Homo sapiens: one gene and its partner. The protein of the gene in region 1 purifies or fractionates together with the protein of each later gene. This does not show direct contact. Each region holds a gene or a part of one and is shown in the gene's direction. Other genes may lie near its edges.

Region 1 (3,751 bases):
CTTTACCAAGAAGACCCTATCAAGGTGCCTTCCCATCTTTGTCAAGGAGTCTTTGGCCCAGGTGCCTTGGATCTCCTAAGCCCTGTTTAGGGAACCCCAATTGCATGCAGCAGTTGCCCCAGGGAATAGACAGGTGGACACTGCACAGATGGTGGGAGATGCAGGGGTCTACAAGGAAAGTGACATAATGGACAGTCCAGGAGGGACTGGCCTGGTTTTTCCTGACACTGTTTTAAAAAGCTAGAAGCACATCAGTTTCTGACTTCCCTGGGCAGCAAAGCAGCAAGCTCCTCAGGAGTGGCAGGGCTTCCCTGCTCTAAGGTGTGAATCCTCCAGCTGTTTGGGGTGGAATGTAGGAACAAAACCCATACCCTGCTGGGCCTCAACTGCTGAGGCCCCACTGTCCCTGAGCTGCCTTCTTCCTACAAAGGAGGGCTGTGGGTGCTTACCCAGGTATGAGCCCAGAACCAGAATAAGTGTGGCAGATAAAAAGGGCCCAGATTAAATAGGAATGAGTATACCAGGCCTCACAGTTAGTACCTGGGTTGTCAGGAATGTCCCAAGATCCAGCTGGGTCCGTGAAGTCTGCCCTTCAAGTCTCTCTTCTATGGGGAGTGACCCCTCTCTGGTCAGGGCACCTTGCTCCCCTTGGCAGTTTCTGAGCCTCTGCAGGCTGGGGAAACCATACATACCTGAACTATGGGAGCTTAATAAAAAGAAGATAAAGACAGACAAAATCGACTGATTTTGCCAGTCCTCACTGACAAAGACCCCTCCTGGGCAGTTGCACCAGCTGGGAGTTCCCTGGGTCTTCTCTCCTGCGGCCCGGGTCTCCCGGCAGCTTCTCTGTGTGTTCTGATTTCGTCAGGTGGGGCAGCCTCGGGTCCATTCACCTGTGCTTGCTTCTTCGTGGCATCCCCACTATTCCCAGTTGCAGTCGCTCCGCCAGGCCAGGTCCTCCCAAGTGTTGCGCCCCCGACCCATGCAGCACTAATCACTTCCAGCCGTCAGGACCAGAAACAACGTTTCTCAGGGGTGGGGTGGGGAAGAGGGAGCCAGGTTAGGAGACTGAGGTCCTAGCTGGGATCAGAGATCCCAGCACAGTCAGCCCTGATAGCCTTCCTCAGAACTTTGCAAATCCCCAGCCGCTGGGGCCAGAGAAGGCAATTTTATCGTCTACTAGTTTATGAGCCGGAGCGGCGGCTAGGCGGGGAGTCGGCGGCATACAGCGTCTGGAGGTATGGCCCGGCCTGACTGTGCACGGTGCAGCGCCCCGCAGCGCGGAGCAGCCCCGTGGCCCTGCTCTGGTGGGTAGTTTGGTCGGCTTCTGCTCTCCGCGCCTGCCCCAGCCTGTAGAAATACCCTCCCCGGACATCTAGGAGCTCCAGATCCACCGCGGCCCGGGGTGGAGAGGTGGGGGCGCAGGAGGAGGGGCACACGGGACTCGGGCCCAGAGCCGGGGGCGGGTCCGAGGCTGGGGGCCCGGATTGGGAGCCGAGCACTGGGGCCCAGGCGTTTGCGGAGCCTAGCGCAACGGACAGCCGGACCGCCCCAGCCCGGCCGACCATGAACTCGGGACGCGAGCCCCGAACACCCCGGACACTCTTAAGCATCGCAGACATCCTAGCCCCGCGCATGGTCCCCCGAGCACCCTCTGCGCCGCAGCTTCCAGAGTCGGGTCCGGGTCCAACGTCGCCGCTGTGCGCGCTGGAGGAGCTGACTAGTAAAACTTTCCGCGGACTTGACGCGCGCGCTCTGCAGCCCTCTGAAGGTATAGAGCCGGCAAGGTCGCGGACTCTGACTTAGCCTTTTCCTCACCTCTCTCCTCCTGGTTCCCCGTCTCAAACCTTTGTCCCAGCCCAGGCCACCCACCCTAATCCTCCCCTGTCCTCAGCCCACGTGCCAGGACTCGCACCTGCGACTTCTCACCTCTCCTCCGTTAGTCCCTAGGTTCCGCGGCGGCTCCGGAAGGCCGCCAGTGCCAAGGGAAAAGGGCAGACCGTCGCCAACTGAGCGACCTGTTGCTCTGTTCCTTGTAGGCGGGGCAATCGCGATAGAGAAAGGCAGGAGAGAAAGAGACAAAAGGCTTCAGCCGCAGGCGGTAAACGAGTGAGCCTGCAAAGGCGGCACAGAAAGCGCTGGAGAGTCGAGTCTTTCCGGGTGACCAAGCTCCGCTCCAAGCCACTCTCTTCTCGAGGGGAGTCAAGGAGCAGAAAGCCCTTGGCGCAGCACTGGGCGCGGGATTCCGCACTCTGCCTTTTCTCGCTCTCTGTACCTCATTATCTCCCTTTGGGGCCGGAGGAGCGGGCTCTGGTGTCACTAAGGAACTGTAAACCGAATGCCCGACCCGATCCATGGAAGGGCATGATCTAAGTCCTGTTACCACCACCACGCTGGGTCGGCTGCCCTGACTCTTACTCGCCTCTGATGTCACCCTCAACTTATAGCCTGCTCAGCCTGAGGCTCCTAAAAGCCTCAAAGGCTCCACCCCAGAAGGTTTGACCCTGCACCTCTGAATCATCCCTCCCTTCCTTCACTTCCTTGCCCCTACAATATGCCCTCAGCCTGCTGCCTTTCGCACCCCTGTGGCCAGCCCGCTTTGCGCCCCATATCCCCACCTGGGCCTGACTCCCGATAAGGGATCACAGTTCTGGTCTCCGTCCGCCTTCCTGGCTCTCCCTCTACTTCCCCCACCGCCACCGGCCCGACCCCACCCCCAACTTTTCTTTCCAGGCCCAGCCTGATTCCCGGAGGCTGGAAACTGACCCCCTCCCTATCCCTACAGGGCGGGCAGGTCCGGACGCGCTGGGCCCTGGTCCCTTCGGCCGCAAACGGCGCAAGTCACGCACTGCGTTCACCGCGCAACAGGTGCTGGAGCTGGAGCGGCGCTTCGTCTTCCAGAAGTACCTGGCGCCGTCCGAGCGAGACGGGCTAGCTACGCGACTCGGCCTGGCCAACGCGCAGGTGGTCACTTGGTTCCAGAACCGGCGAGCCAAGCTCAAGCGCGATGTGGAGGAGATGCGCGCCGACGTCGCCTCGCTACGCGCGTTGTCCCCGGAAGTCCTGTGCAGCTTAGCACTGCCCGAAGGCGCTCCAGATCCCGGCCTCTGCCTCGGCCCTGCCGGCCCTGACTCCCGGCCCCACCTGTCAGACGAGGAGATACAGGTGGACGATTGAAGACAAAGCCGCCGCCAATCCTGGGCTCTGGGGCCCTGGACTCCTCACCTCGCGCTCTGCCTCTGGCCAGAGTTCCAGGGTGGAGGAAGGAGGTCCACTTGGGCCTCTTCCGGCCCACAGTCCAGACGCTCACCTTTCCCGGTTTTTTTGTAAGTTTGTTTTGTTGTCTGAGACAGGGCCTCGCTCTGTCGCCCAGGCTGGAGTGCCGTGGAGCGATCACCGCTCACTGCAGTCGCGACCTCCTGGGCTCAAGCGATCCTCCTGCCTCAACCTCCCGACTAGCTGGCATTACAGGCGTGCAGCACCACCCCAGGCTAATTTAAAAAACTTTTTTTTTTAGAGAGGAGGTCCCGCTATGTTGTCCAGGCTACTTTCCCAATATTTGAGAATAAAGTCGAGACTCTGCCGCACCATGCCTCTATCCAGACGCCCGCCAGAAGCAAGAAACAGTAAAATCTGTAAAGTGCTATGGGGAGTCCGCACTTGGCACTGTGCCAGGGCTTTCAATGCAATGTTTCCTTTAGCCCTTATAGCAACCCTTTAAGGTAGGTAATAATTACACCATTTTTACAAA
Region 2 (3,651 bases), on another chromosome or scaffold:
AGTGCAGTGGCACAATCGTGGCTCACTGCAGCCTTGACCTCCCCAGGCTCAGGTGATCCTCCCACCTCAGCCACCTGAGTAGCTGGAACTATAGGCAGGTGCCACCACACCGGGCTAATTTTTGTATTTTTTGTAGAGATGGGGTTTCGCCATGTTGCCCAGGCTGGTCTTGACTTCCTGGTCTCAAGTGATCCACCCACCTCATCTTCCCGAAGTGCTAGAATTACAGGTGTGAGCCACCACACCTAGCACCCCTTTTAAATATCTCTAGAGATGGATCCATGTGAAGGCTCCTAGTATGTAAATTTTGTGTATCTGTTCATTATTTTGGGAACTGAGTTCCATACCTTTCATTAGATTTGTTAATGGGCTCAGAACCACAAAAAAAGTTAAGAACTACTTTTTATCAGAATTACAAATGCATATACTTTTTGATCTACTAAGTCTCTCCTGGGCCTTCATTTTATAGATAATGATGTATAGACACTAATCTCCTCTTGTCTGCAGTTTCACTTTCTGTGGTTTCAGTTATCCGTGGTCAACTGCAATCCGAAAATATTAACTGAAAAATTCCAGAGAGAGACCACATTCGTATAACTCTTATTACAGCATCTTGTTACAATTGTTCTATTTTATCATTAGTTATTGTTAATCTCTTAGTGTACCTAATTTATAAATTAAGCTTTATCATAGTTATGTGTGTATATAAGAAAAAACATAGTATATATAGGGTTTGGTGCTATCTGCCATTTCAGGTATCCACTGTGAGGGTCTTGACTAAGGGAGGACTACTGTACAAGATTATTCACTGAGGCCAGGCACGGTGGCTTAACGCCTGTAATCCCAGCACTTTGGGAGGCCGAGGCAGGAGGATCACTTGAGGTTCAGAGTTTGAGACCAGCCTGGCCAACATGGCGAAACCCCATCTCTACTAAAAATACAAAAATTAGCTGGGTGTGGTGGTGCACGCCTGTAGTCCCAGTTACTCAGAAGGCTGAGGCAGGATAATTGCTTGAACCCAGGAGGCAGAGGTTGCTGTGAGCCCAGATTGCACCACTGCACTTCAGCCTGGGCGACATAATTAGACTCCGTCTCAAAAAAAAAAAAAAAAATTATTCATTGCAACATTATTTGTAATAACAAAAGACTAGAAACCCAGATGTTCATTAACACTGGACTGCTTAGTGTATTCAATATTTATATAATGGAAAATTGTGTAGCTTTGAAAAAATGAAGATCTCTATGTACTGCTATAGAAAAATCTCCAAGATATATTAATGATAAAGAGGAAAATACAGAACAGTGTGTATATGGTATAGTTTTTGTATTAAGTCAGGGGGAGAATAAGACCATACGTTTGCCCACATATATGGTATGCCTAAAGAAACAAAGGGTACACAAGAAACATAAAGTGGTTATTAATAGGAAGTAGCTGGTAAGGGAAGGTAGTAGCAGTGGGAGTGGGACTCCTTACTGTATACTTTCATATATTGTTTGATTTTAGAACCGTGTAAATATATTACTTAAAAACAAAACACTATTCTAACCAATCTAGCCCACCTATTTCTGTTCAGTAGCAAAAGAACTGTGTTCTATCTAAAATGTTGTTGCCTGCACAGATTTTGGAGAAACTGGCATAGATGTATTTTGGTCATAAGAGTGTAGATAATTCATATTTGAACTGAAACTTGTGTCTTAAAAGCTAGTTTTTCAATGTTAACAGGCTGGAAATATTGTTAATACAAAAACCTATCACTGTGTACCTTATGGTACACCAAATAAACAAGGTAAAATTATACAAATGTATCATTAAAAAGCAGCAGTAGAAAACCATGACCATGCAGAGGTAGCCCTAATCATGCTCTGAAAACAGTTCTTTGTTTCTAAAGTCCAGTTGTGTGCATTCCCCAGGCTGGCTCTGCAGAGTTATCAAGTGCTTCAGAGCAGCCTCCTCTCCTGAGGCTGAATATGAACCTGCCATTCACTCTGTTATTGTCTAGTTTTAGTTAGGAACATGAGGTGATCATAACTATACTTTGTAGGTTATTAGGGAATATAATTTTACATGTTGTAGTCATATGTAAAGGTAGAAGTTTGTGGACTCCAACCCCAGTTTATTCTCTCTCTAGATTTGCTTTTCCTCCTGTGTCACTAGATACAAGGTCTTCCTTGGTCTGTGTACGGTTTTCTTCCCACTCCTTTATGATTTTGGGGGAGTTCTCATTTTAGGAAATTTACATTTTTAAAAAATATGTGACTTTCCAACATGGCACATATATACATATGTAACAAACCTGCACGTTGTGCACATGTACCCTAGAACTTAAAGTATAATTTTAAAAAAAGTGACTTTCATTATAACTAAATTATACCTCAGAGCTGGTGTACACACCTCCATATACATTGACAAAAGGTAGTATTTGCTAAGCTCCTGGTATGTGGCAAACGCTGGGTAACTGCTTTACCTAGAAGTGATTTTATTTAATCCTTCAAGTGCCCTGTGGAATAGAGATTAGTATCCCCATTGCACATGTGAGGAAACTGAGGGCTAGAAAGGTTCTGTATTGGATGCCTGTGTATGCCGAGGCACTAAGTAACTTTCATCTTTTAGTTTCCCATTTAAGGAATCTATTCTGGCAGATGATTTTGATCCTGTTAGTATTGATTGCTTTCAGATGCCTATTTGTAAACTGACTTAAGTAAAACCAGCATTACCCATTATTCTTGAGGAATGAACTGTTCTGGTCAGCTGGGCTTTTTTGATTAACTGAGAACGGAAAGCCCAGTTTTTGTTTTTGTTTTTTTATTTGGGAGTTTTTTCTTAAAGTCTCTATAAAATAATCTAGATTCACTTTCATATCTGTGTGACTAGCCTAGTAGACAGTCTATGTGTGATTCTGCTTGTAGCTTTTGGGATAAAGCCTAAAAGTTGTAGTTCCACACATGAGGTTGTGCAGGATCTGACCCTTCCCAACCCTGACCATAATTCCTACTCCATTCCCTTACCCGCACGATTTTCTCCATTCAAATGCCCTGGGAAGGCCAAGCTGGTGGACATAATTAAATCACGAGTGGATGAGGAAAGTCTTAGTCCTCTGAATGTTATCATTCTTGAATTGCGCTCCAGTAGTGAATGCCTTTATCTCAGGTGTGTGTATCAGTCAGCTTGAGCTGCCATAACAAGGTACCGTAGACTAGGTGGCTTAACTAACAGACATTTATTTTTCTCACAGTTCTGGAGGCTAGAAGTCCAAGATCAAGGTGCTGTCAGGATTGGTTCCTGGTTGAGGCCTTTCTTCCTGGCTTGTAGAAGGCCACCTTTTTATTGTATCCACATATGAATTTTCCTCTCTGTCATTGAGGAGAGACGGAGATCTCTGGTGTCTCTTCCTCTTCTTAGAAGGACACCAGTCCTCTCGGTTTAGGGCCCCACACTTTGTAACCTCATTTAACCTTAATTACTTCCCTGTATTAGGCAGCAGTCTCCAGAGAGACAGAAGCAGTAGGATTTATGAGGTGGGATTTGTTAGGGGAATTGGCTCACACGATCACAGGCGGAGGAGTCCCATGATAAGCCATCTGCGACAAAAATTAGCTGGGCATGGTGACACGCCTGTAATCCCAACAACCTGGGAGGCTGAAGCAGGAGAA

What was found.
Region 2: the proteins of LBX2 (region 1) and TRPC4AP purify together in Homo sapiens (affinity purification with mass spectrometry; one large-scale study listed by BioGRID and IntAct). This does not show direct contact.

The regions. Positions count from the first base shown.
Region 1 is NC_000002.12:74,497,353-74,501,103, reverse strand, and holds LBX2 (transcription factor LBX2), read left to right. Parts: upstream 1-1,500; 5' UTR 1,501-1,566; coding exon 1,567-1,771; intron 1,772-2,785; coding exon 2,786-3,177; 3' UTR 3,178-3,587; downstream 3,588-3,751. UniProt on the Homo sapiens protein: Transcription factor.
Region 2 is NC_000020.11:35,040,709-35,044,359, reverse strand, and holds part of TRPC4AP (short transient receptor potential channel 4-associated protein), read left to right. Parts: intron 1-3,651. UniProt on the Homo sapiens protein: Substrate-recognition component of a DCX (DDB1-CUL4-X-box) E3 ubiquitin-protein ligase complex required for cell cycle control.